3 linked regions of the Homo sapiens genome follow. The protein of the gene in region 1 interacts with the protein of each later gene in a biochemical or structural test. Each region holds a gene or a part of one and is shown in the gene's direction. Other genes may lie near its edges.

The links.
Region 2: the proteins of NF2 (region 1) and DCAF1 form a complex in vitro, tested with the Homo sapiens proteins (3 studies listed by BioGRID, with this or other methods).
Region 3: the proteins of NF2 (region 1) and CD44 form a complex in vitro, tested with the Homo sapiens proteins (2 studies listed by BioGRID, with this or other methods).

The regions. Positions count from the first base shown.
Region 1 is NC_000022.11:29,676,630-29,683,653, forward strand, and holds part of NF2 (merlin), read left to right. Parts: intron 1-1,566; coding exon 1,567-1,694; intron 1,695-4,809; coding exon 4,810-4,972; intron 4,973-6,390; coding exon of another isoform or gene 6,391-6,426; exon of another isoform or gene 6,427-7,024. UniProt on the Homo sapiens protein: Probable regulator of the Hippo/SWH (Sav/Wts/Hpo) signaling pathway, a signaling pathway that plays a pivotal role in tumor suppression by restricting proliferation and promoting apoptosis.
Region 2 is NC_000003.12:51,489,992-51,497,015, reverse strand, and holds part of DCAF1 (DDB1- and CUL4-associated factor 1), read left to right. Parts: intron 1-235; 5' UTR 236-282; intron 283-4,502; exon of another isoform or gene 4,503-4,627; intron 4,628-7,024. UniProt on the Homo sapiens protein: Acts both as a substrate recognition component of E3 ubiquitin-protein ligase complexes and as an atypical serine/threonine-protein kinase, playing key roles in various processes such as cell cycle, telomerase regulation and histone modification.
Region 3 is NC_000011.10:35,134,356-35,142,194, forward strand, and holds the start of CD44 (CD44 antigen isoform 1 precursor), read left to right. Parts: upstream 1-4,815; 5' UTR 4,816-4,948; coding exon 4,949-5,015; intron 5,016-7,839. UniProt on the Homo sapiens protein: Cell-surface receptor that plays a role in cell-cell interactions, cell adhesion and migration, helping them to sense and respond to changes in the tissue microenvironment.

The DNA.
Region 1 (7,024 bases):
CCCTCATGGATGAGTATTTAGTCTGTTTTCTTTTGCAATTTTGAACAAAATGACACTGAACATCCCTGAACACAAATCTTGACACACACACGTGGATATATTGGTAGAATAAATTCTTATAATAGAACTGTGGGGTCAAATTTTCGATTTTGATACTCTCCAAAGAAGTCATACCAGTTCATGCTCTCACTAGTGGTGCAGCAACTAGTACGCGTTTTTGCTGAAAATTTTTATGATGTGTAACATACACATAGAGAAGTGCCCAAATTACAACTGTACAGTTTGAAGAATTTTCACAAACTGAACATACCCATGTACCCAGCACCCAGATCAGAAAACAGGACATCCCTGGCACCCAAGGAGCCTTCTCTCAGCACCCTTGCAGACGGTCTGCCTCAGGCCTTGAGAATGTCTCAAATGAATGTTCCAAGCCTCTGCTCTTTCCCAGACACTGTCCTAGACTCAATACGGGATCCAAGGATGAAAAAGAGGCAGATTGTTTGCAGGAAACTTGCAAATAGTAGAAAGAAGATACAGCCAAAAAGAAATCTTTTACAGGGTGGAATCGCAGAAGAACCATTAGAGAACCGTAAACACAGCGTTAAGGGACAGCAAAGAAAAGGGTTGCCGGCTGGCTGGGAGGGGCTAGAAAGGCTTTGGTGAGAGATCGTGGTGTTTGAGAAGGGCCTTGAAAGAGGGATGGAGCATAGGGAGGAGAAATGGGATAGGCAGGGGTACAGAGATGGGAAGGCAGTAGTCCAGGGGATAATAAACAATACTGTCTGTGACTTAGTAGGGCAAATAGTAGGAGAAGCCGGGAAGCTAGATTGGGGTCCTCTTTAGATGACCCTTTGTGCTGGGATGAAAGTCCAAAAAAAAAAAAAACTACACCACCCCTGCTTCAGGCCCTACTCCGGTTCCATTGTCCAAGCCCAAGCCCCTCGGTGGGCCGGTGGGGAGCCCTTTGTGGTGGTGCCCATCTCCCACCCCACCTCTCCACACTGCATGGCAGACTCCTGGCACCCTCACTGGGCACTGCCCCACCCATTGCCATACTTCCCGTCCGGCAGACCTTCTCCTGGCACTGCCTTGGATCCCAGCAAAAGCAGCATCTCTTCTAGCCTCTGTTCGCTCCCTGGCTACAGTGTTTACCTTTTTTAACAGTGATGATCTGTGAACACATCTATTTCCTGAACAAGACTTTCAGCTGCTCAAAGCCAAGGATGCTGTCTTGTTTTCTGCATCTCCAGCCCCTTGCACAGGGCCTGGGAGTTTCCTAAATGAAAAAGCGAGTGGGAGTTTGTGTTTGATTCAGCTGAGCATGAAGAACGGTTAGAGATTTGAGGGATGATTTTCCTGGATTTGTAGTCTTTGATATTGTTTACCTGGCAGTGGCAAATGTGGAGGGAGTGAAGTGGAGGGATGGGGACTCGTGGTGGCATTGGGAGGTGGGACCCGAGTTGTGCCCATTGCCTCTGTGGCTGCTGGAGGATCGGTTGTCAACACAGTAGTGTCCTTCTGTGCTTGTATGACCCAAGCTCCTAATCCGAAATTTCTCATTAACAGCCCATGAACCCAATTCCAGCACCGTTGCCTCCTGACATACCAAGCTTCAACCTCATTGGTGACAGCCTGTCTTTCGACTTCAAAGATACTGACATGAAGCGGCTTTCCATGGAGATAGAGAAAGAAAAGTATGTAGCCCCCTGTGCCCTGCTGTGGGCAGCTGTGAACTAGACTGAGTGATTGGGGCCTTGGGAAGCTGGGGCAGAGGTGAGAGGTCGCTGCAGCAGCCTGTCATTACTCCTGCAAAGGTTTGCTCTGCTCTTACACCCTGGAGGAAGAATTTCCTTAATCAGAAATTAAGGACAACAGATCAGCATTCATTCTGAACGAATAAAAATAACAATTTTTATCCAGGATAAAAATAACACTTGACTGGTGAGCTGGAGTTTTTGGTGGCTCTAAGCCTCACCTAAAGTGTAGGACTGGGTTGTTAGCATCTCTGAGTCAGTTCAACTGCTGTTATACTACTGGACTGTAGTCACCTCCTAGTTGTGTTCTCCAGCAACTGGGATCTGTGGTGGTTCCCATGTCTAGAACAAACAAAGGTGAGAGAAGAGACTCAGGCTCGAGGCTAAGGAAAGCTGACAGCTGGTGGGGCCACTTTGCTGCAGTGGGTGGCACTGGGCAGGGCCCCAGCATGGCCTGATCATGGCAGCAATTGCTGAGCTGCCCTCCGTCTTCCCTTTATTGTGGGTAGAAGTGGATCAGAGATGGAAAGGAAAGGATCCCCACTGCAGAGGAAATCTAAGCGAGGGCCCCTAGTTCCCAGAGCTAGCGGTAAGTTGGTTAACTGCTGCTGCTTGCTAGAGGACAACCACAGTAGCTACCATGCATTGAGTGCCTGTGTGTCAGGGGTTTTGGCTTTTGTCTCATTTAATTCCTGCTAACTTACAAACATCAAAATGACATCAAAGGTAGGTTTTCATGTTCCCATTTTATAAGTGAGAACTCAGATTTAGAGAGTTTAGTGAACTCCACCAGCATCCCACAGCTGATGCAGAGGGGTTGAAACCCCTCACCCATCTGACTCTGCAGCCCATGTGCTTTTACCATGGGTGGTATCCTCAGGAAAACCCTTTGGGGAAAGTGTCTCCATGGAGTCCAGTATGGGCAACCAGAACCCAGGCTGTTTTTCTTTGGGCTCTCACACTGAGGGTATAGCTAAGTAGCCAATGAACCAGAGCCTCTAGCTGTCATATCTGCTGTCCATGTTCCTTTCACCATTATCCAGACATATACATTTATGTGGTTGGGATCCGGGATCAGGGTGAAGCTGTTCTGTGTCTGCTATTTTATAGTTTGTATTTTGTTACTATCTTAGTTTGTTTTGGCTACTGTAACAAAATACCAGAGGCTGGGTAGCTTATAAACAACAGAAATTTATTTCTTGGCCAGGCACAGTGGCTCATGCCTGTAATTCCAGCACTTTGGGAGTCCAAGGGGGGCAGATCTCTTGAGCCAGGAGTTCAAGACCAGCCTGGGCAACATGGCAAAACCCCATTTCTACTAAGAATACAAAAATTAGCTGGGTGTGGTGGCACATGCCTGTGGTCCCAGCTACTCGGGAGGCTGAGGTGGGAGGATTGCTTGAGCCTGGGAGGCAGAGGTTGCAGTGAGCCCAGATTGCACCACTGCACTCCAGCCTGGGCAACAGAGAGACACCCTGTCTCAAAAAAAAAAAAAAGAAAAGAAAGAAATTGATTTCTCACAGTTTGGGAGGCTGAGAAGGCCAAGATCAAGGCACGGGCAGAGGTGGAGTCTAGTGAGGGCATTCTTGCTGGTTCATAATCAGCCCCTTTTTGCTGCATGCTCACCCAGTGGAAGGGATGAGGGGTCTCTCTGGAGTCTCTTTTATAAGGGCACTAATCCCATTCATGAGGCTCTACCCTCATGACTGCCCAAAGGCCCCACCTCCTGACACTTTTTTTTTTTTTGAGATGGAGTCTCACTCCATCGCCCAGGCTGGAGTGCAGTGGTGCGATCTCGGCTCACTGTAACCTCCACCTCCTGGGTGCAAGCGATTCTCCTGCCTCAGCCTCCTGAGTAGCTGGGATTACAGGCGCATGCTATCACGCCCAGCTAACTTTTGTATTTTTAGTAGAGATGGGGTTTCACCATGTTGGTCAGGCTGGTCTCGAACTCCTGACCTCATGATCCGCCCACCTTGGCCTCCCAAAGTGTTGGGATTACAGGCGTGAGCCACCACACCCAGCCGGTGATTAGGTTTCCACATATGAATTTTGAAGACACGAACATTCAGACCATAGCACTTCTTACCCTTGCACATATTGGCAGAGTCTCTATACTAACCATGGCAATCCCTATGGAGTGTTTTTGGTATTTGTATTGCATGGTTTTTCTGGCCATGCCTTGTAGTTGGACACTTTGTGGGTGGTTTCCAGATTTTCACCATCATAGATGCTGTCACTCAGTGTTATCTGTTCTCAGGTGAGGGTGGGGATCTTTTCTTCCTTGCGTTGGGTGAGCTTCTGAGTGAGCTTCTGTCATCTTTAGATGAAGTCTCAGAACAAGTGGGAATGTGGATGTGGCCTATCAAAAGAGATCACGTGAAGCTGGGCGCTGTGGCTTATGCCTATAATCCCAGCCCTTTGAGACCAGGGGTTCAAAGCCAGCCTGGGCAGCATAGCAAGATCCTATAAAAAAAAAAAAGAGTTTACTTGAATTACTGCTCCAAGAAGGGTTGAGACAAGGAGATTGTTCTGGGTTCCCAGGAAGCTTGTTTCACGTATGTTTTTTTTTTGTACAGAACGAAAAGCTGTCCATGAGAGCTGGTATTTGTAGAGCCCCCTATGAGAATTTACCAAGGGCTTTTCTACTCTTTCTTTTTCTTTCCTTTTCTTTTTTTTTTTTTAAAAATAGAGACAGGGTCTTGCTATGTTTCCCAAGCTGGTCTCCAACTCCTGGGCTCAAGCAATCCTCCTGCCTCAGCCACCCAAAGTACTGGGATTACAGGTGGAGCCACCGTGCCTGGCCTCCTACACTGTTTTATTTAATCCTAACCACGGCCCTGTGATCATTATCCCAATTTTAATGATGAGGAAACATTCATAGCATTTAAGTGACCAGCCCAAGCTCCCATGGCCTGTGAGTGGCCAAGTAGAGACGTGAACCCCAGGCCTCAAACCCTAGATCGCACACCAAGCAGCTTGTGGGCCGCAGAGCACCTGAGCCGTGTCTCACTGTCTGCCCAAGCCCTGATGCATGATACCCTCTTGCCGGCAGAGTGGAATACATGGAAAAGAGCAAGCATCTGCAGGAGCAGCTCAATGAACTCAAGACAGAAATCGAGGCCTTGAAACTGAAAGAGAGGGAGACAGCTCTGGATATTCTGCACAATGAGAACTCCGACAGGGGTGGCAGCAGCAAGCACAATACCATTAAAAAGGTACCCAGGGTCTCTTTCTTGTATTTTGCTGATCAGGACCATCATTAATGAAATGTGCGGTTGGCATCTGGTTTCCTCAGTAGCCAAGTCACTAGACTATTGGCATCTTTTGTATGTACTTAGTTGAGGAAATTTTTTAACTTATGCCAGAAAGGGAATTTAATCTGCCAATGACTATGAACCCATTGGCTGGATGGAAGTTGAGCTTGTGTTAAAAGCTCTGATGTAATGAACCCCTGTTACAGGGTGGATTTTGAGCCCTCATTTAGCAGTAAAGCATAATGCCCTTTTAAGCCAAGGGGTGTTATACCCAGGGAGCTGCCTTACTTTATGAGAAAGCAGAATGAAATGGAGGCTATTGAGAATGGACTTTCCCTCTAGTCTTGTGGTGTCTTTAAGTGGCAAGGACTATAAAACCAAACTGAATTTTTAACTTTTTTCATACTTAAAAGGAAGTGTCTAGGAAAGAACCTCTTTGTTTTAAAAGAGAAGACTTTATTACTTTGCAAATGGTTTCATATCTTTCTCTACTGGTATTTTGAGCTTTCAGCATTGTCGAGATTCAGAAGCTAAATTCCATACTAATTATCAGCCCAAGAGCATACCTCTCTCATTTGGGCCAAGCAGAAGGGTCCTCTCATACCAAATAATGCTCTGCTCTTAACTGATAGCCCAGGACCAGGTTAACACCTATAAAATAGGTGTTATTAAGATAAGACTGTCCATTGAGTTTAGGTGATACTGATACAGTTAATTTTTTATTCTTTACCTCAGTCTTTAAAATAGGCTTCCAGTTTTATGGACTGTCTCTGTTTTTAGTGGTTAAGCTGTATCTGAAAACTCCAGGGGATCTGTTTCTGCCTGCCTTCGTTGTTGGGTACAGTAGGCAGCCCTGACTTCTACCTCTCGACTCCAGTCACAACTGGCACCGGGTAGAGAATTCCTTTTAATAGTGCAACCTAGAAGGAAAGGCATTTCCACATTCCACATTCTTCTTTCCTCTGGCTTCTGTAATTTACTGGGCTTCCCTTCCAAAACAAAATTATTAAACAGTAAAGGGGAGTTCAAGGGAGGCCTCGGTCATTAAGGAAAGAGGTAAAACGATGGCTGAGCCAGTGAGCCAGTCAGCCCTTAAATGAACTGCCTCAGACACCCCATCTCACCCCTTACCCCCAGCCTTGTCATCTGGGTCCCAGGAACAGTCTCACCATTTCCACTGCTGCTGCAATGAGCAGTGCCCTCAGCCACAGAAACCTGCAGTGTGAGAGCTGGAGAGACCCCGTTCCAAGCCATTAAAACAAACAAAATCACTCATCACGATTTCAGGCCTATCCAAGCATTTTGCAGATGGCACTTATGGCATTGTTGATATCACAGGGTATGTTTTTGTTTTTCTTCATTTTATTTTGCTGGTTTAGCCTCAAGCCCAAGGCAGAAGACCTATCTGCATTTGAGCCCTCAAAGTAGGTTGTTCCCAGGTACTCTCTATGTGGTGATGGTGCTGCCCTCTGTGATACTAACCCGTGCATGAGCTTGCCTGTCTCTGTCCTCGGGCCACACTGAGCCCTTACGAGGGCAGGTGGTGCCTGGGTACTGGCCGCAGCATGCTTTGAGTCTAAAAGTAGGCACCCACCCTGTGAAGCCAGACCAGCCTCCAGGGCCCCAGAAGACTGCCTCGTTCCGAAGAGCATGTCATGGGGCTGTAGGACCAGCCATTCTTCCCATCTCGGGTCATTGTTGGGCTGGGGAAGGTTATGGCTTCTTGTCCAGTCAGGTGTGTCTAAAAGTCCTTTGTCTTGGTGGCATACTCCTAGCATGGAAATGGGGTCAATCTGGGCACTTTGGAGACTGGTGTGTTTAACTCAAGATCAAGACCTTTTATGCGTTGACAGCCTCTCAAGACCCATGGTCACACCTGGCAGCTTCTGGTAGTGGGGCAAAAGGGTTGCTTGTGCTGGCTCATTTTCCTTTAGAGCTTTCCCTTTCTGCACACATCCCTTTTCTTTTCAAATAAAGCAAACCCAGAGCACAGGGTCTGATATGTGAGTCCAC
Region 2 (7,024 bases), on another chromosome or scaffold:
GCAAACAGTTGTTAATATTATGCCATATTTTCTCTATTTGTGTGTGTGGTATCTATATATATATTTTGTGGAATCATTTGAAAATAAGTTGCAGGCCTGTCATCCCTAAATACCCTAGCAGATGCTTGTTAGGATAAGAAAATTTTACATAAGTATTTCTTGAGGCTTTATATTATCCCATCATGGGGACAATATTGTCATTTAACCCCGCACAACAACTGTTTCCATCTTGCAGATAAGGAAATTGAGATTTGGAGAAGTTAAATAACCAAGACTTCACAGGTATGTCAGCAGAGTTGGGATTTGAATCCTTGAAACCTTTTTTCTACCTAGTACTAGCTGGTCTTGGGGACCTCTCTGAGCTAGTTTCCTCATGTGTGAAAAAGGGTAGGATGGTTGTGAAAATTCAGAATAATGTAAGTATGGTAAATTACTTAGCTCAATGTCTGTCCCATACTAGATATTCACTAATTGGTAACTACCGTGTCACCATTGGACAGACCATCATTTCTTCATAGCACTTAAAGGAACTCACTTAAGAACTTGAGTAATGCACCCTTATTGTCTTGGGCATAACAAGGTGAAGATGACTGTTTTCTTTGCTCTTGTTGTGCAAGCTGGAGTGCAGTGGCGCGATCTCGGCTCACTGCAACCTCTGTCTCCTGGGTTCAAGCGATTCTGCTGCCTCAGCCTCCGGAGCAGCTGGGATTACAGGCGTGTGCCACCATGCCTGGCTAATTTTGTTGGTATTTTTAGTAGAGATGCGGTTTCACCATGTTGGCCAGGTGGTCTCGAACTCCTGACCTTGTGATCTGCCGGCCTCGGCCTCCCAAGGTGCTGGGATTACAGGCGTGAGCCACTGCGCCCGGCCTAATTTTGTATTTTTAGTAGAGACAGGGTTTCTCCATATTAGTCAGGCTGGTCTCGAACTCCCAACCTCAGGTGATCTGCCTGCCTTGGCCTCCTAAAGTGCTGAGATTACAGGTGTGAGCCACTGTGCCCGGCCTTTTTTTTTTTTCCTTGAGACAAGGTCTCGCACTTTTGCTCTGGCTGGAGTACAGTGGTGCAGTTATGGCTCACTGCAGCCTCCACCTCCTAGGCTCAAGCAGTTCTCTTGCTTCAGCCTCCCCAGGTAGCTGGGACTACAGGTTGCAGTGAGCCAAGATTGTGTCCCTGCACTCCCGCCTGGGCAGCAGAGCGAGATTCCGTCTCACAAAACAAAAAACAAACACAAAAAAACGAACATTGAAGTAAGTACTACTACTACTGATTTTTAAATTTTTTTCATAGAGGCAGGATTTCACCATGTTGTCCAGGCTGGTCTCAAACTCCTGGGCTCAAGCGATCTGCCCACCTAGGTTTTCCAAAGTGCTGGGATTACAGGTGTGAGCCACCACACTCAGTTGCTGACTGCTTTCATTGATACTATGTTAATTCACATTGCTATTATTAGTTAAGTCTGTTACAAGTTTATATTTTCCTTTATTTAGTCTGTTACAAGTTTATATTTTCCTTTATTTATGTATTTAAATAATAAAGACAAGGTCTTACTGTTACCCAGGCTGGTCTCAAACCCCTGGGCTCAAGTGATCCTCCTACCTCAGCCTTCCAAAGTGCTGGGATTACAAGTGTGAGCCACCACGCCTTGCCTTTATATTTTTTTATTCTTTATTATTCTTAATATTTTTTTTGAGATGGAGTTTTGCTCTTGTCGCCCAGGCTGGAGTGCAGTGGTGCAATCTCGGCTCACTGCAACTTCTGCCTCCCGGGTTCAAGCGATTCTCCTGCCTCAGCCTCCCGAGTGGCTGGGATTGCAGGCGCCTGCTGCCACGTCCGGCTAATTTTTTGTATTTTTAGTAGAGACAGGGTTTCATCATGTTGGCCAGGCTGGTCTCGAGCTCCTGACCTCAGATGATACACCCGCATTGGCCTCCCAAAGTGCAGGGATTACAGGCGTGAGCCACCACGCCTGGCCTATTTTTTATTTTTTTAAATAATAGAGACAAGGTCTCACTAAGGTTTATATTTTCCTTGGGCAAATGGTTATTCCCAAAGTTATAATTATCTTCAGGCATAGATTAGTTGGAAGTTCTGAAAATGATACCAGAAGTATATATGTATATGTTTCTAAGTTGAACTCTAAAATTTTAGTGTTTTAGGCCAGGCATGGTGGCTCATGTCTACAATCCTAGCACTTTGGAAGGCCAAGTGGAGAGGATTGCTTGAGCCCAGCAATTTGAGACCAGCCTGGGTAACATAGTGAGACCCTGTCTCTACAAAATAATAAAAATTAAAAAATTTTAAAAATATAAAATTTTAGTGTTTTAATGCCCTTGAATTAATCTTTATTAGAGGTAGTGTTTTTTAAAAAATCATGTCTTTATGTGCTCTAGTAGGCTAACTGCTTAAGTTATCTAAGAAGCAGTCTCTTCTGGATCATTTCTTTTCTCATTAAAAAATTGTGGTAAATTTACGTAGCATAAAATTAACGACTACCCATTTTGAAGTGTACAAATCAGTGGCGTTTGTAGATTCACAGTGTTGTGCAACCATTATCTCTTTCTAGTTCTAGAATATTTTTATCACCTTAAAAGGAAACCTCGGCCGGGCGCGGTGGCTCACACCTGTAATCCCAGCACTTTGGGAGGCTGAGGCGGGTGGATCACGAGGTCAGGAGATTGAGACCATCCTGGGTAACACGGTGAAACCCCGTCTGTACTACAAATACAAAAAAGTAGCCGGGTGTGGTGGCCGGTGCCTGTAGTCCCAGCTACTCGGGAGGCTGAAGCAGGAGAATGGCATGAACCCGGGAGGCGGAGCTTGCAGTGAGCCGAGATCCTGCCACTGCACTCCAGTCTCTGGGCGACAGAGTGAGACTCCATCTCAAAAAAAAAAAAAAAAGGAAACCTCATACCCATTTAGCAGTCACTGCCCATTTTCCCCTTTCCTCAAGTCCTTGGCAACTACTAGTTAGCTTTCTGTATATTGATTTACCTATTTCAACTTTTTTTTTTTTTTTGAGACGGAATCTCGCTCTGTCGCCCAGGCTGGAGTGCAGTGGCGCAATCTTGGCTCACTGCAACCTCCGCCTCCCAGGTTCAAGCGATGCTTCTGCCTCAGCCTCCTGAGTAGCTAGGACTACAGGCGCATGCCACCACGCCCGGCTAATTTTTGTACTTTCAGTAGAGACGGGGGTTTCACCATGTTGGCCAGGCTGGTCTCGAACTGTTGACCTCATGATCCACCCGCCTTGGCCTCCCAAAGTGCTGGGGTTACAGGTGTGAGCCACCATGCCCAGCCTTCAATGTTTTATATAAATAGAATCATACAATATGTGCCCTTTTGTGTCTGCTTTCTTATTGTTTTCAAGGTTTTTCCACATCTGTAGCATGTTACTACTTCATTCATTTCTATGACTGAATATTCCATTGTATGCATATACCACATTTTGTTTATCTCTTCATCTGATGATGGACTTTTGGGTTGTTTCTACTTTTTGGCTATTGTGAATAATGCTACCAAGAACATTTGTGTATAAGTCTTTGTTTGAATTCCTTTTTTTTTTCCCCTGAGATGGAGTTTTGCGCTCATTGCCCAGGCTGGAGTGCAATGGCGTAATCTTGGCTCACTTCAACCTCTGCCTTCTGAGTTCAAGCGGTTCTCCTGCCTCAGCCTCCCCAGTAGCTAGGATTACAGGCATGTGCCACCATGCCTGGTTAATTTTGTATTTTTAGTAGAGATGGGGTTTCTCCATGTTGGTCAGGCTGGTCTTAAACTCCCGACCTCAGGAGATCTGCCCGCCTTGGCCTCCCAAAGTGCTGGGATTAGAGGTGTGAGCCACCACACCCAGCCTTGTTTTCAGTTCTTTTGGGTATATATCTAGTAGTGAAATTGCTGGGTCGTATAGTAATTCTACATGTGACTTAAAAAAAAAAACCTGCAACTTTTTGAGAGAGTCCCAAACTGTTTTTTATAACTACTATACCCTTTTACATTTCTTTTATTTATTTATTTATTTTTTTGAGAGGGAGTCTTGCTCTGTCACCCAGGATGGAGTGCAGTGGCGCGATCTCGGCTCACTGCAAGCTCCACCTCCCGGGTTCACGCCATTCTCCTGCCTCAGTCTCCCGAGTAGGTGGGACTACTGGTGCCTGCCACCACGCCCAGCTAATTTTTTGTATTTTTAGTAGAGATGGGGTTTCACCATGTTAGCCAGGATGGTCTCTGTCTCCTGACCTCGCGATCCGCCTGCCTCGGCCTCCCAAAGTGCTGAGATTGCAAGCATGAGCCACCGCGCCCGGGGCCACCCTTTTACATTTCTACAAGCAATATGTGTTCCAGTTTCTTCACATGCTTGCTAATGCTTATATTTTCTCATTTCTTAAACTACAGTCATGTTAGTAGGTGAGAAATGATATCTCATTATGGTTTTGATTTGCAGTTCCTAGTGACTGATGTTGAGTATCTTTCATGCGTTTCTTGGCCTTTTTTTTGTTTTTAAGACAAAGTCTCACTCCTTTTGCCCAGGCCGGTGTGCATTGGGGTAATCTCGGCTGACTGCAACCTCCGTCCCCTCCGAGTTCAAGTGATTCTCCTGCCTCAACCTCCCGAGTAGCTGGGATTACAGGTACCTGCCACCATGCCCAGCTCTTTTTTGTATTTTTAGTAGAGATGGGGTTTCAACTTGTTGGCCATACTCGTCTCAAACTCCTGACCTCAGATGATCTGCCTAAAGTATTGGGATTATAGGCATGAGCCACAGCACTCGGCCCATTTTCGCATATACTGTGAGGCAAAGATCCAACTTCGCTGTTTTGTGGGATAATATCCAATTGTCTCACTACTTTTTTTTTTTTTTTGAGACGGGTCTTGCTCTGTCACCAGGCTAGAGTGCAGTGGTGCAGTCTCGGCTCACTGCAACTTCCGCCTCCCGCAGGTTCAAGCGATTCCCCTCCCTCAGCCCCCCCGAGTAGCTGGGACTACCAGTGTGTGCCACCACACCTGGCCAATTTCTTGTATTTTAGTAGAGATGGGGTTTCACCATGTTGGCTAGGATGGTCTTGATCTCCTGACCTCGTGATCTGCCCACCTCGGCCTCCCACAGTGCTGGGATAACAGGCGTGAGCCACTGTGCCAAGTCTCATCAGTACTTTTTTGTTTGTTTGTTTTTTGAGATGGAGTCTTGCTCTGTCGCCCAGGCTGGAGGGCAGTGGCGCTGTCTCAGCTCACTGCAACCTCCGCCTCCTGGATTCAAGCAGTTCTCCTGCCTCAGCCCCCCTGAGTAGCTGGGGTTACAGGCGCGCCACCATGCCTGGCTAATTTTTGTATTTTAGTAGAGATGGGGTTTCACAATGTTGGCCAGTCTGGTCTCGAACTCCTGCTCAAGTTATCTGCCTGTCTTGGCCTCCCAAAGTGCAGGGATTACAGGCATGAGCCACTGCACCTGGGCAGCACTACTTATTGAAATTACTTTTTTCCTATTGAATGGTCTTGGTACCCTTGTTGAAAATTGATCATAGATGTGAGTGCTTATTGCTGGATTATCAATTCTATTGTATTTGTCTCTGTGTTGATCCTTATGTCAGTGCCATGCTGTTCCATTTACTATAGTTTTGTAGCAAGTTTTGAAATCAGAAGTGTGATTTTTCCAACTTTTTTTTTTTTTTTTGGAGACATAGTCTCGCTCTGTTGCCTTGCTGGAGTGCAGTGGCGCAATCTTGGCTCACTGCAGCCTCCGTCTCCTAGGTTCAAGCGGTTCTCCTGCCTCAGCTGTCCCAGTAGCTGGGATTACAGGTGCGTGCCAACACGCCCAGCTAATTTTTGTATTTTTACTGGGGATGGGGTTTCACCATATTGGCCAGAATGGTCTCGATCTCTTGACCTTGTGATCCACCTGCCTCGACCTCCCAAAGTGCTGGGATTACAGGTGTGAGCCACTGCGCCTGACCCCGACTTTGTTTTTTTTTTTTTTTTTTCCAAGATTGTTGTGCCTATTCAGGTTTCCTTGCAATTACATACGAATTTTAGAATCAGCATGTCCATTTCTGCAAAAGATGTCATTGGGTTGTTTTTGTTGTTGTTGTTTTTTGAGACAGAGTCTCTCTCTGTTGCTCCCAGGCTGGAGTGCAGTGGCACGATCTCGGCTTACTGCAACCTCTGCCTCTTGGGTTCAAGTGGTTCTCTTGCCTCATTCTCCCAGATAGCCGGGATTACAGGCGTCTGCCACCATGGTCAGCTAATGTTTTGTATTTTTAGTAGAGATGGGGTTTCACCATGTTGGCCAGGCTGGTGTTGAACTCTTGAACTCAGGTGATCCACCCATCTTGGCCTCCCAAAGTGCTGGGATTACAGGCGTGAGCCACCATGCCTGGTTTGTCATTGGGATTTTGATAGCGATTGCATTTTATTTGTAGACCACGTTGGAATGTATTACCATCTTGATACTAACCCTTCTAATCCATGAACACAGAATGTCTTTTTGTTTATTTAGGTTATTTAAAATTTAGGTCATCATGAATTGACTCCAGCAATGTTTTGTAGTTTTCAGCATACAAGTCTTGTGTTTGTGCCTTTTTTGTTGTTGTTGAGACAGGGTCCCGCTATGTCTTCAATGCTAGAGTGCAGTGGTGCGATCTTGGTTCACTGCAGCCTCAACTTACTGGGCTCAGGTGATTCTCCCACCTCAGCCTACCGAGTAGCTGGGAGTACAGGTGCATACCTGGTACAGGTGCACACCATGCCTGGCTAATTTTTTGCCTTTTTTGTAAAGACTAGGTTTTGCCATGTTGCCCCAGCTGGACTTGAATTCCTGAGCTCAAGCAATCCACCCACCTTGGCCTCCTAAAGTTCTGGGATTAACAGGTGTGAGCCACCCTTCCCGGCCTTGTGCCTTTTAAATTAAATTTGTTTCTAATTATTTTATTATTTTTGGTGCTATTGTAAATGAAATTGTTCTCTTCATTTACTTTCATATTGTTTTTTGGCTAGTGTATAGCAGTACAACTGATTTTTGTGTGTTGCTCTT
Region 3 (7,839 bases), on another chromosome or scaffold:
GTCTGCGTAAAACCCATTTTGTGGCTAACATGGATCTATCTAAAAAATCCAGTTGCATCTCTCCCCTTGGGACTTCCAGGGTGCAGCAGCCACACCAATTTCTTTATTTACCATAATTTGAAAGCCTTATTAATCCTAAAGGCTCAGCTCTATAATCACATTTGGTTAGCTTGAGACTAATCCTTAGAGGTTATTTATTTTTCATGAAGATTGCTTCCCAGCTACTGGTTTATTTAGACTTTACTAATAATTATTTCGCAAGAGCTTTTTTCACCACTGCTCATTTATATGTGTAGAATTCACACTGTGAATATGAACTAAGGATGAATTTTTTTAAGAGTTAAGGTTTAACTGGAATGTCATTTTTTCTTTACTGTGCCAGATCATTCCTTTTCTGGGAAGCTGTCCCGTGAAATAATTAAATATTGTCCCTTTAAAAGAGTCTGTGACCTGCTGCATTTGTAATCCTTGAATTCCATGATTCAGCCCAAGATCTCCCAGCTTTCCATTTCACACTCCTGCTCACATTTGGTTTAGATTTGGCTTTTCTTTGCTCGAGAGGAACAGGATTTATTACTACCAGTCAGAAGCCATCAGTCCCCAATATTTCAGCAAAGAACCCTAGTCTGCCAGAGTGAGTAATGCTCTGTTTGCACTCAAGTCTCCCTGAACCAGTCACCCCAAATAGGATGTCACTGCTTGCATTTATTTAGAAACTGTCAAGTTGTCTATGTGTTTCCTCCCACCAGTTCATGTGATTCCTGAAACACCCCTATGCGCTTTGATGGGAGGGAAAAAAAATAACAGTCCCTCATACATTTATGTAATGCTTATTTATGGAGCACAGTGTATATGTTAGGGACTGAGAGCTGAGTATGTGCTGGCACCCCAGAAGGACATGTCCCTGTTCTCAGGTAGCTTAGAGGTCATTGAGTCCCACCATGAGGCAGGCACACCAGGAAATGGTCTTGATGTCTTCTTTCACTGACTACTCATAATAAACTATGGGAAAGGTCTGATTACCCTTGTTTTGTGGCTGGGATTACCGAAACTCCCAGAGGTTAAGTCATCCTCTGATAAGGGGGAAAGCCAATGCTCAGACCTGGACTTTCTCGGTCCAAGGCTGCTGATTGAATTCTGGATTCTTCCCAAATAGTGTAATCTCGTGTCAACTCAAATCAATTCAAGTTTCCTTTCCAGTTTCCCACATCCCATGGTTTGGCTTAGAAAGAAAGATGGTGCAACACACAACAGATATCAAGCATCTAAGAGTTTGGGAAGGGTTTGTGTGACCAGTGGTGTGGGCAGGGTGTCTTTAGAATGGAAAGTGGATGAGAGGGGAGCTCAAAGAGGTGATCCAGGAATTCCCAAAGGTGGACCTTGACTCAGTAAGTCACCAGGTCTGTTATTTGAAATGAGTCATTTGTGGTATGGGGGCAAATGACCTCAGTCCCTCACCAAACTATCGGGAAGCAAGCAAACAAAATAATCCCCGCTTCTGGGGAGAATAATCCTAATTACAGCCCCTAGAATTTGCATGCCCTTCTACAGTTTGCAAAGCACTTTCACACCTATATTTTCCTTGGTGGAATTGTTTACTGCACTAATGGAGAAGGGACCAGGACTTGATATGGCCTAGTTTGTTGGTTTTTATATATTTTTTAAGAATAATCATCTGTCAAAATGTAATTTCATGCAATAGTCTGGTATATAAAACTGATGCAAGTGGAACTTCTGTGGTTGGGATGGGGCCTGGGGAGGGAGAGGCACAGCTTACTCCTCAGCTTTTACTCTGACCACTAGGTCTGCTTCTGAGGGGTCTCTAAGGAACCTCCAGGTTCCATGAAACACAGTAAGACAGACATTGTTCCTAGTGACTCCCCACGTCACTTCACTTTCTTGCTCCAAGAAAAGGAAGCTGAAATCCCTGGAGGTTGCATGAGGTGAAAAAAGCTGCTCCTTGTCCTGTATTCTTGTGCATGGAACCTACCAGGGCTGGTTTCCTCACATGAGTAGGGACTGAAGCCTTATCTGGGAGCCAGTTTGCCCCCAGTTGTTTCAAGAAATAAAGTGTCCTCTTGGTCACAGACAGCAGCAGTAACAACTTTTTCCTGCGGACTGGCAGCATTTTCCAAGCACCTGCTCTTCAGGTGGGAGTTACGGGTCACTGTCTTCATTCCAGACGGGCGGCTCTTTGAGTCATGGCATGCCAGCTTCTGAGTGGCTGAGGACTAGATCCAGACAAGGATTTTTCAGTCCCAAACACTCTTCCTGAAAATGCAAGAGGAGTAGTCTTTAGTCAAACAGAATCTCCACAACTGAAAAATTTATACCGGACTAGACAGTGGTAGTGGTTGCACAATATTGTTAAAGTACTACACGTCACTGCTATAAACACTTTTAAATGGGTGAAATGGTAAATTTTATGTTATGCATATTTTAACATAACAATGATAATAATTTTAACTAAGTACGTTGCCTCCTTATTTCCTACAGGGTCAAGTTCAAACTCCCTGGCATAGCTTACACCTTGTAGTCCCCATACCTGTAACCTCATGTCTGCTATCTTCCCCCAGCCCCTTCATCTGATCTATGTTCAGATCAGCTCACATTGCTCTCTATTCTCTGGACAAGCCATGTTCTTTCACTTTTCTATGCTCAAACACAATTTTGCTTTTAGTAATGATAGCAAACACTTATTTAAAGTGCTTACTGCATGCATATGTAGACATAAATCTACGGCTTAATACATGCAGGGCTTTTGAGTCATTTAATCCTCACCAATTCTATGAAGTAATAGAATTGTAATAGTAATAATAGATACTATTATTAAGCCCATTTTATACTTGAGCAAATTGAGCTAATTGCCTTAGGCAAGGTCACACAACTAAGAAGCAGCCATAATAGGGTTTGGATCTAGGTGTTCTAGCTCCTGAATCCATGCTGTTCGTCACTACACTGTACTGCCTGTGGATGACTTACTTGTCCCTGTAGTTTCATCTGAAGAATTCCTCCTCCTTTTCCTTTGAGGCCTGCCTCAAATATCACTTCCCCTGTGAAGACTGCCTGGTGTTCTCCAGGAGAGAGTGTGACTCCCTTCTCTAGGAATGGTAGCACCCCAAACACACACATTTTGCAGCATATTTCACCTTGCATGGTAATGGCCTGCTTGTGAGTTTTATTCCGTACCAGAGGGTGAGGGCTCTGAAGATAGCGCCAGGTCTTATTTACCTCGATACCCCACAACACTCATTACATGTCTGATGAATGAATGCATAGGGGGATGGCTGGGTGCATTTCTCTCAACTTTTCAATTTCTTGAAATAAATAACAAAATCTTACCTTCCCTCAGAAGTCCTGGCATGGTTCCTTTCATCTTGCCACAGCCACTGATAATCACTTTCATTTTCTGTGTAACTCACCAGGCAAGAAGTCCATGCAGATTTACTTTTAGTAGTTCACATGACAAATAAATACTGCGTTTGATTTCCAAACATTAAACCATAGTATATTATAGATAGATATAGAGTTATCATTCAAAGTATGATATTTCAATCTCAAAAGGCTTCCCCTGAAGAATATTACAAACTCTTCCTCTCTTTAAGATCTGCTGGGTAGGAAAGATGGGAGAAAATGAATTAATGTTTACACAGAAAGGAGGATAATGGGGGCAAAAATAATAGATGAACGTATGGGTGGATGAGAGAATGGATAAAATGATAGGTGGATATGTTGATCTTGGACAGATGGGAAATGAGTGGATATATCAATAAACAGATATGTGGGTGGATGGGTGGAGAAGAGGATGGTGGATGGTTGTGGTTTTATGAAGAGATGTGAAAAAGGAAGTGTGGAATGATGGATGAGAAGTTGTATGGGAAGATGAATAGAAGAATAGGTGGTTGAATAAATTAAAAGGTGTGTGGTTGGATGAATGAATGAGTGGGATGATAGATGGACCTAAGTGGTTAGTGGATGGACAGGAGGATGGATGGATGTGAGAGCCCCAGAAGGACATAAGGAAAGATGGGTGGATAGATGGATGGGCGGATGGAAGGATATTTAGGAGGATGAATGAGCATGTGTGTGGAGAGAGGTGCCCATTCACACTGGCTTGAACACATGGGTTAGCTGAGCCAAATGCCAGCCCTATGACAGGCCATCAGTAGCTTTCCCTGAGCTGTTCTGCCAAGAAGCTAAAATTCATTCAAGCCATGTGGACTTGTTATTGAGGGGAAAAAGAATGAGCTCTCCCTCTTTCCACTTGGAAGATTCACCAACTCCCCACCCCTCACTCCCCACTGTGGGCACGGAGGCACTGCGCCACCCAGGGCAAGACCTCGCCCTCTCTCCAGCTCCTCTCCCAGGATATCCAACATCCTGTGAAACCCAGAGATCTTGCTCCAGCCGGATTCAGAGAAATTTAGCGGGAAAGGAGAGGCCAAAGGCTGAACCCAATGGTGCAAGGTTTTACGGTTCGGTCATCCTCTGTCCTGACGCCGCGGGGCCAGCGGGAGAAGAAAGCCAGTGCGTCTCTGGGCGCAGGGGCCAGTGGGGCTCGGAGGCACAGGCACCCCGCGACACTCCAGGTTCCCCGACCCACGTCCCTGGCAGCCCCGATTATTTACAGCCTCAGCAGAGCACGGGGCGGGGGCAGAGGGGCCCGCCCGGGAGGGCTGCTACTTCTTAAAACCTCTGCGGGCTGCTTAGTCACAGCCCCCCTTGCTTGGGTGTGTCCTTCGCTCGCTCCCTCCCTCCGTCTTAGGTCACTGTTTTCAACCTCGAATAAAAACTGCAGCCAACTTCCGAGGCAGCCTCATTGCCCAGCGGACCCCAGCCTCTGCCAGGTTCGGTCCGCCATCCTCGTCCCGTCCTCCGCCGGCCCCTGCCCCGCGCCCAGGGATCCTCCAGCTCCTTTCGCCCGCGCCCTCCGTTCGCTCCGGACACCATGGACAAGTTTTGGTGGCACGCAGCCTGGGGACTCTGCCTCGTGCCGCTGAGCCTGGCGCAGATCGGTGAGTGCCCGCCGCAGCCTGGGCAGCAAGATGGGTGCGGGGTGCTCAGCGCGGACCCGGCGGCAGCCCCTCCGGCTGAGTCGGCCCTGGGGGACTGGAGTCAAGTGAGCTGTCTGCGAAGTGCATTGGGCTCCGGAAAGCAGGGCTGGGATTTGCGCTAAACCGTTGGAGAATGTGTCTGTGGAAGCACCATTTGGTTGAAAGAAAAAGAGAAAGAGAAGAAAGTTTGTTGGGCAGGCTGCCGGCGCGCAGTTTTGGGCGAGGTCGCTAGAGCTGCAGCACATGGCAGAAAGTAACCGTTCTCCCGGATGCGCACAGTCGTTGTCTGGACTAACAGGCTCCTGTGCCCAAGGGCTCGCCAAGCCCCACCGGGCTGTGTCTAGGCAGGGCAGAGCTGGGCGGGGCAGAGACTGGGGCTGGAACAGGGCGAGTGGCTGTTATCAAGGTGGTCACAGAAGGGATCACAATTCCAAGTGTGAGACTAGCTGGCAATGGGTTTTCCAGAAAGGGGTCCTGGGTTCTCCCAGCTCCCCACTGAGCCTTGTTCCAAAGCTTACAGTCCGCAGTGTCACTGCCACCTTAGCGCTGTGGAAGCTTGAACCAGCTCTGCGGTGAGGTCTTGGGTCTCCATGAGATTCCAGCCTGGGATAGGGAGCATGAATATGAGAGGCAACCACTGGACCAGCTGCTTGGTCCTCACCACCTCCTGCTTCTGCCAATCAGTGTGGGGAAATCTCAACAGTAAGGTGGCTTATATTCCCTGCCTGGCAGCCTCAGAGCAGAGAGAAGAGCCTTGATACCAGGGCAACATCAGGGACCCTGGAGCTAGGGCTCCAATATCTCATCCAAACAGGGTCAGTGCTTTGTGGTGGCTATGGAGGGGAGGGGCTGCGTGTAAGGTATATTCTAGCACGGCTCAACTCCAAGCATTCTCTTTCTTTGTCTATGTATGTACAGATAATTACATGGCCGATTTGCTTATCGCTGGCCAAAATTAATCTTTCTTTTAAGAAGTGCCAGCTGGGTCATTAAGACAGCTCAGCCTGCATGCAGTAAATTCTACTCAGCAAATATTTATTAACCCAGTTCCACGGGAGTACTGAGAAATTGAAACACACAGTCTCACCCAGGTAGTTTAGATTGAGTACCCAGTATAAAGTATCTTGAATTACTTTCTGCTTTCTCTATCTTCCTACTTTCTGCAGTAGGAAGAAAGTGACCCTAGGTGGAGGCTAGGCAGGATGAGTTCTCTGTGCATATGCATCTCCCTTTCTGTGTGAGTGAGAGGTCTTTGCTAGGTGGGGATTTGGGGATCTAGGATTTATACTACTGAAGCTGAAATAATAATAATAATGATAGCAACAACACAGCCTGTCATGGTGGCCCATGCCTGTAATCCTAGGACTTTGGGAGGCTGAGGCAGCAAATTACCCAAGGTCAGGAGTTTGAGACCAGCCTTGGCCAACATGGTGAAACCCCATCTTTACAAAAAATACAAAAATTAGCAGGGTGTGGTGGTGCACACCTGTAGTCCCAGCTGCTTGGGACGCTGAGGCAGGAGAATTGCTTGAACCTAGGAGGTGAAGGTTGCAGTGAACCAAGATTATGCCATTGCACTCCAGCCTGGGTGACAAAGCGTGACTCTGTTAAAAAAAAAAAAATGAATACAGTGCTAGCTACCATTTACTGTATATTTTCACTGTGCCAGGCATTATGTTAAATATTTTCCATGTGTTATCTCATTCTACCCTCACAATGGCCTAGTAAGAAGCTTCCTGTTATCAGGCCTGTTTGACAGGAGGAAAACTGATGCTTAGAGACGTTAAGTGACTTGCTGGCATTCACATAGCCAGGAGCAGTGCTGGATGGAAACCCAGCTCCACTGAGCTCCAAAGCCTAGGCTTAGAATATGTTAGACTGTATAAGATGGACGAACTTGGAAGGATTTCAGGGAGGGAAGGATTTTGGTGGACTCTAGGCCTTAGGGAAAGTTCCAAAAGGGACTGGAGCTCAAATAAGCCCTTGAAAAGTGGAAACATTCAGGATGGGAGAGAAGAGTCAAGCTGGAGATCAGGGAGAGCCCTGGGCCTGGCCTGAAAGAAGAGGGCCCTGGTGGTTTCCCTATAGTCTCTAGGGAAGTTTATTTGTATGTTACCTACCAGTGCCATCTTCTGCTTTGTCTTTGGGCATTCTGACTCCTGACTCCTTCCAACCTGTCTCCCCGTTCCTTCTAAAAGGCCCCACTTCCAAATATTTGGCACTGTCCTAACCCTTGAGGTTCTCCCAGAGACCCGCAGTCTCCCTCCTGCCCCGTGTTTCCACGGCCCCTTTGCGCAGCATCATTTAGAGGAAGTACAATGAAGTGCCAGTAGCAATAACTGCCCCGGCCCTCGCTTTCATGTGCTTGTAAAGTTGTTTGGCAGGAACTGGGACTTGGAAAGGAGACATGACTTTGTCAGAGGGCTTGGGGCTGGGCATGGTGTGGGTGGCGAAGGGGAGAAGGAGGAAAGGGGAAGGAAAGGAGCTCTTGTTGCCCCATTCTGGGGAGTGGTGGACTCTGGACAACCACGAGGAAACTTTGGAAAGGAGCAAGGCTTTGAGGAGGAGTCCAGTCTTTGTATGGGAAAGCAAAAAGTGGAGAAATGGCCAAATGTAGTTAAGTGACATTGGACCCAGAAACTCTGAGTTGGGGAACAGATATCTTGAATTCGGGGTCTTGTGCAGGAGGAAGAAAGTGGCCCTTGGTGGAGGCCAGGGGGGATGAGTCCTTCATGCACATGCATCTCCTTGTCTCTGTGGGTGAGGGGATCTTTTTTTTTAATTA